2 linked regions of the Homo sapiens genome follow. The protein of the gene in region 2 interacts with the protein of the main gene of each other region in a biochemical or structural test. Each region holds a gene or a part of one and is shown on either strand. Other genes may lie near its edges.

Evidence for each region.
Region 1: the proteins of PRKRA (region 2) and DUS2 form a complex in vitro, tested with the Homo sapiens proteins (one study listed by BioGRID).

The regions. Positions count from the first base shown.
Region 1 is NC_000016.10:68,075,193-68,077,785, forward strand, and holds part of DUS2 (tRNA-dihydrouridine(20) synthase [NAD(P)+]-like), read left to right. Parts: intron 1-162; coding exon 163-312; intron 313-1,439; coding exon 1,440-1,527; intron 1,528-2,593. UniProt on the Homo sapiens protein: Catalyzes the NADPH-dependent synthesis of dihydrouridine, a modified base found in the D-loop of most tRNAs. Specifically modifies U20 in cytoplasmic tRNAs. Activity depends on the presence of guanosine at position 19 in the tRNA substrate.
Region 2 is NC_000002.12:178,444,471-178,448,295, reverse strand, and holds part of PRKRA (interferon-inducible double-stranded RNA-dependent protein kinase activator A), read left to right. Parts: intron 1-709; coding exon 710-791; coding exon of another isoform or gene 792-840; intron 841-2,760; exon of another isoform or gene 2,761-2,870; intron 2,871-3,795; coding exon 3,796-3,825. UniProt on the Homo sapiens protein: Activates EIF2AK2/PKR in the absence of double-stranded RNA (dsRNA), leading to phosphorylation of EIF2S1/EFI2-alpha and inhibition of translation and induction of apoptosis.

The sequences.
Region 1 (2,593 bases), on a different chromosome or scaffold from region 2:
ATCCCAGGGCTGGGCAGGGGGCACATTCTGATGGCCAGGCCCCGGTGGTGTTTTGGTGTATGTGGTAGAGGAGTTTCTCAGTGGTGGGGCCCTGGGGTCCTGCAGTACCCTGGATGCTGGCTCCGCTAAAGTGTTTGCTCTGATCTGCTTCTTCCTCCCTAGTGAGGCCTTTGGCCTTGGTGCCTTCTATGAGGAGACCACACAGGAGCTGGATGCCCAGCAGGCCAGGCTCTCAGCCAAGACTTCAGAGCAGACAGGGGAGCCAGCTGAAGATACCTCTGGTGTCATTAAGATGGCTGTCAAGTTTGACCGGTAGGTCTCCAGCTTGGCCTCAGCTTGGGCTAGGGCCAGCACCCTTGGGGTCCCACTGGGCCAGCACACTGGCTGCTGTATGTGCTTAATGTCAAACGTAGGGACCACAGGTCTTGTTGGTTTGGAAACTCGTTCTAAATTTTCAGCATCCCATAGAAGGTGCTTTCAGGGGAGATAGTCCCTGAAAGGCTGTCCCAAGGATAACTGAACTCTACTTTTTCCCTGATTTACCGCCTCCCACAACTCAGGGCAGGGGGGACTTGTCTCCTGTTCCTGAAAGTCTGTGCTTTTCCAAGGCCCTGAGGAACTGGCTCCTGGCATGAAGCTCCTCAAACAACAGCAGGACCCTAGCCCTCATTTGGCTCTGCAGCCCCTACCCACACCCAGTGCCCCTCACCAGCTCTGTGGTGCTCTCTCAAGCTGCTTACGCCTCAGATTGTGACTCAGCTTTGAATGGTGCCCTCCTCTGGGATCTGAGCCTTTCTCCAGTCCCCAGGACCAGACAGGAGCCAGTCTTGTCTGGCAGAGGTGTGGAGAGGGGGAGCAGGGTGGTGGGGAATAGCTGTTGGGCAGTCAGATGCCAGGGAGAGTTCCAGTTGGGAAGTTGGAATATGACCCCTCCCACCCTGTCACTGTGTCACCCTGTCACAGGCTGACTCTGAAACCAGATTCCAAGTGTCCATGGCTGCAGCAGATGATCATGACACTTGGCAGGCGGAATCAGGATGGGCGCTGAGCTAGATCCCCGAGACCATTGTCTGGCTACCTCCATTGCCCACCTCCACCCACTCCCTACTAATCTTGTCTTGAGTGGCAAGCTTCCTTCTTGGATGTTGAACATTGTTTTTCCAGTCTGGACCTCAGAGTACTGGGAGTTCATTCCCCCTTCCCTTACAATTTCTTGAGCATGCCAAAATTCATCTTCCCTTTAGGGAGAACCCAGGTCCAAGCTGCTGGTAGGACAAGAATGGGAGCCTAGGGGAGCAAGTACAGAAGCCTTAAGGCAGCAGCTCGGTGTCTCAGTTCCTCTCATTTCTGCAGCTCCTTTCAGGAGCTGAGTAGTGCCCTGGCTGAGGGAGGGAGCGGTGATGGTGGGTGACCCCAACTGCTTCCCTTCCTTTCCCCAGGAGAGCATACCCAGCCCAGATCACCCCTAAGATGTGCCTACTAGAGTGGTGCCGGAGGGAGAAGTTGGCACAGCCTGTGTATGAAACGGTGAGTTCCTGGCTGTGGCCTGCCCTGCAGCCAGTCACAGCACTCCCATGGCTTACACCCTCAACTCTAGATTGCCAGGCTGGAGCCTGGCCTTGACCTCTGTAGGCATGGAGAAGCTGCTGGTGGCCAGGTCAGTTGCTGATAGCCCTCCCCTCTTACAGTGGCCTGTTGTCCAGTTCAGCCAGACATCTCTCTTTTTTTTTTTTTTGAAACAGAGTCTAATTTTTATTTTTTATTTTTTAGAAATGTGGTCTCAGCCGGGCACGGTGGCTCATGCCTGTAATCCCACAACTTTGGGAGGCCGAGGCAGGTGGAACACGAGGTCAGGAGTTCAAGACCAGCCTGGCTAAGATGGTGAAACCCCGTTTTCCTAAAAATACAAAAATTAGCTGGACATGGTGGTGGGCGCCTGTAATCCCAGCTACTTGGGAGGCTGAGGCAGAGAACTGCTTAAACCTGGAGGCAGAGGTTGCAGTTAGCTGAGATCATGCCACTGCACTCCAGCCTGTCTCAAAATAAATAAATAAATAAATAAATGGGGTCTTGCTTTGTTGTCCAGGCAGGCTGGTCTCAAACTCCTGTGCTCAAGTGGTCCTCCTTCCTCAGCCTCCCAAAGTGCTGGGATTATAGGTCATGAGCCTTTTTTAAAAATTTTATTTAATTATTTAATTATTTATTTATTTTTTGAGACGGAGTCTCGCTCTGTTGCCTAGGCTGCAGTGCAGTGGCATGATCTTGGCTCACTGCAACCTCCGCCTCCAGGTTCAAGTGATTCTCCTGTGTCAGCCTCCTGAGTAGCTGGGATTACAGGTGGGTACCACCACACCTGGCTAACTTTTTTGTATTTTCAGTAGGGATGGGGTTTCACCATCTTCACCAGGCTGGTCTCGAACTCCTGACCTCAGATGATCCCCCGACCTCGGCCTCCCAAAGTGCTAGGATTACAGGCGTGAGCCACCGCACTTGGCCCAGACATGTTTTTGGATCAAGCCTCAGCCAATGGGGCACAGAATTGAGCCCCAGATGTGGTGCCCCTGGGGTGGAAACCATGAGATAGGCTTGCTTC
Region 2 (3,825 bases):
GTTTGAACTTAAAAGGAAAAAGATGGAATTTATCATTTGCCATTGTGATTGCTTACTGAAATTAGACATCAGTCTTATCCCCAGTCCCAACTTAGCTACCCATGCAGAAGATACAGACCGTCCAGAAGATACATAACAAGCTGTCACCTTATTCCATAAAACTCTTTCCTGTTGTACCCAACACATAATCATGACTGCTCAGCCTAGCAAAGCAGTTTGATACGTTATAGGACAGGCTGTCAGAATAAAATTATGCACATTTTGCTATCAAACAATTCTGCTGTAAATGGTTCCTTTAAAAGAAACTTCTTGCTGCAGAAGAATTTCCCCTCCAGGAATAAAGGAAGAGTAAAATACTAATCTGCATTTCTTCAGAGGTGTGACACGGTCTACTTTATTACCATGTTATATAATAAACATATATAATGTAGAAATAAGGATTTTTATGCAGGTATGCATAGAATTATATAGAACTTTAAAAAGTTATTTTTTAAAATTTTTTCACATGGTGAATATTTTATTACAGTATATAACCATGTAGTATATAACATGTACATATTTTTATGTACAGTATATAACGTACATATTTTTATTACCTAGTATGTGTATGTAAAATCTATAGTGACTTTGTTTTGTGTATTGAAAACATCTTTGTAAGCTGCACATTTTTGTGGGAGATAAAGACTTCTTTTTTTAAATCTTAATTCAGGTGAAGGTACAAGTAAGAAGCTGGCGAAACATAGAGCTGCAGAGGCTGCCATAAACATTTTGAAAGCCAATGCAAGTATTTGGTGAGCTAAATTTCTTTGTATTCAGCAGCTCAAAAATATCATGGCTGAGGTAAGATTAAAAATTTGAACATGCTTACAAAAGCAACAAAGTGAACAGTTGTTAGCATCCTACCTCTCAAATTCTATTTCCTTATGAAAACTTATCATCCATTAAAGAAAACTTTATCCAATCAAATCCAGCAATTAGCTATTAAATGAAGGTGCTCATGAACTAGGCTTTACTGTTTTTTTTTTTTTAATGGGATACAACAGTAGAAAATCAGTGCTTCTTGCAAATATTAATATTAACATTTTGTATTTAGACTTTGATTATTTCTACATTGAAGAAAACAAAGTGTGAGATGGAGAAAGATCCACTAAAAGTACTCTTTTGGGAATTCTAATTTTGAAGAAGCAGGCAGAGGTTTTCTTTTATTATATAATGTATACCAAAAGAAGAGAATGTTAAGTGGGATATTAATTCTTGACATATCTTTCTAAAGTAAGATTTTTTTTTTTTTTTTTTTTTTTTTGAGACGGAGTCTCGCTCTGTCGCCCAGTCTGGAGTGCAGTGGCGGGATCTCGGCTCACTGCAAGCTCCGCCTCCCGGGTTCACGCCATTCTCCTGCCTCAGCCTCCCAAGTAGCTGGGACTACAGGCGCCCGCCACTACGCCCAGCTAATTTTTTGTATTTTTAGTAGAGACGGGGTTTCACCGTTTTAGCCGGGATGGTCTCGATCTCCTGACCTCGTGATCCGCCAGCCTCGGCCTCCCAAAGTGCTGGGATAGATTTTTTACTACTTTAGGTGTTTCTAGATAGAATATTGGTCCTGGAGCATCTCACATATTAAAGTAGTGTCCACTGGGTGCACTCTGGAGCTTGGCATGCTTTCAAGTTCTTCTTGTGCATACACTTACATATGCCTGAAGTACGATCTGTGTAATCAGCTTATAGTTGACAGTAGAGACCCAGGGAATTTGGGATGGGTTTTTTGTTCCCTAGTCATAGAAAGGCTTTTGGATTAGGGGTGTAGTTAGGTTCTCATGTAGTATTCCTCTCTTTTTGTAAATCATTCTAAACCGTTTGGGTAGTTTAGAACTAACCAGTGACATGGCAACCCTCTAGATAAGCAGCTGCCCAAGACAAGCCTTGCATTTCACAAGATGATGCTTGATTCTCTAGGGTCATGCATTATAATTGATCTATGCCAGGCTGGGCGGGGTGGCTCACGCCTGTAATCCCAGCACTTTGGGAGGCTGAGGTGGGTGGATCACTTGAGGCCAGGAGTTCAAGACCAGCCTGGCCAACATGGCAAAACCCTGTCTCTACTAAAAATACAAAAATTAGCCAGGCATGGTGGCAGGCGCCTGTAATCCCAGCTACTTGGGTGGCTGAGGCACAAAAATCGCTTGAACCCGGGAGGCGGAGATTGCAGTAAGCTAAGATTGTGCCCCTGCACTCCAGCCTGTGAAACCCTGCCTCAAAGAAAAACAAGGCCAGGCATGGTGGCTCACACCTGTAATCCCAGCACTTTGGGAGGCCAAGGTGGGCAGATCACTTGAGTCAGGAGTTCGAGACCAGCCTGGCCAACATGGTGAAACCTCGTCTCTACTAAAAATACAAAAAATTAGCCGAGTGTGGTGGCACGCTCCTGTAATCCCAGCTGCTTGGGAGGCTGAGACACGAGAATTCCTTGGACCCAGTAGGCAGTGGTTGCAGTGAGCTGGGATCGCGCCATTGCACTCCAGCCTGGGCGACAGAGCAAGACTCTGTCTCCAAACAAACAAAAAAAAGACATGCCAAATGACATGGCAGGTATTGGGTTCTCCCCCACTGGTGATGGCCATGCTGTTTCTGTATAGCCTGAAGGTGAACCCAACCATTAAGTACATTTGTAGAAATGAGGGGTATGGAGTGTCCTTTCTGCATCTTGGCACTTTGTCAGCAAAAAAAGCTAACAAACTTTACTATATTTGTGCTTCTTGACAGATAAAATGGGAATTACTAAGCTGTAATCAGGCCTAAAGTGGCCTGACTTAATACAGAGACTTTCTCACTTCTCCATCACAATTATTTGGGTAGCTTCGGCATGCAGCATTGTAAGTGAATACTCATATCTCATCAGCCTATGTAAAGCTTGAAATTCTCACAGTTGGAAAAAAAAAACCTTGAGGAAGTGGCAATAACTAAACCTCATTTGTCATGGAAAAATGACTCCAGTTGCCTAGGTGGTACTAACCTTGAAATGCCGCTTATTCAGTTTTAAGTACTGACCTGCTAAGTAACTAGTAATTCCAGACTCCCTAGAAGAGGTTGTTCTCTTTTTCCCTAATCATAATCCCCACTTGCTAAAACCAAATTCATCTAAGCCATCTATTTTCTGCAGGATACATGTAAATCTTAGAGGATTATCCCAGCACTGAGCAGATGATAGATCAAACAGATCTCTCTTCATAGTTCTGTGGATGAAAAAACAGTATTTACACATAATCTGTATTATTCACATTGCCAGGCTAAATTTTCTGGATCATTGTTACTCTTCTGTTTTTTGTATAGTTGTAACAGAGTATTCTTTAAATACATTTTTATGGCATGCCTATTATGTACAAAACACCACAAAGCTTATGTAGGTAAGTGATACATAGGCCCTACCTCAAGGAGCTTACTGTCTGAACAGGGGAGAGGTGTGGTGAAGGATGGACAAATTATATGTATTTGTAAGAGTATATAATTTATGGTAAAACAATTTCAAGAAAGGATTAAACCATGTGTTATAATGTTTCAAAGAAGGGAGAGATTATAAACCACTGGGGTAAAAGGATAGGCTTCTTGGAGGAAGTGACATTTGAGATATATCTTGGATGACCGATCAGATTCCCATAGAAGAGGTCTGAGAAAAGGGCATTCCATGTAGAAGGAATGACAAGAGCAAAGACATAGAGAGTTAATTAGAAAATGCTTGTCATTTATTTCATAATTCGGGGGAAATTATTTTGTTTTATAACACTTTTAAAAAATATTTAGCTTTGCAGTTCCTGACCCCTTAATGCCTGA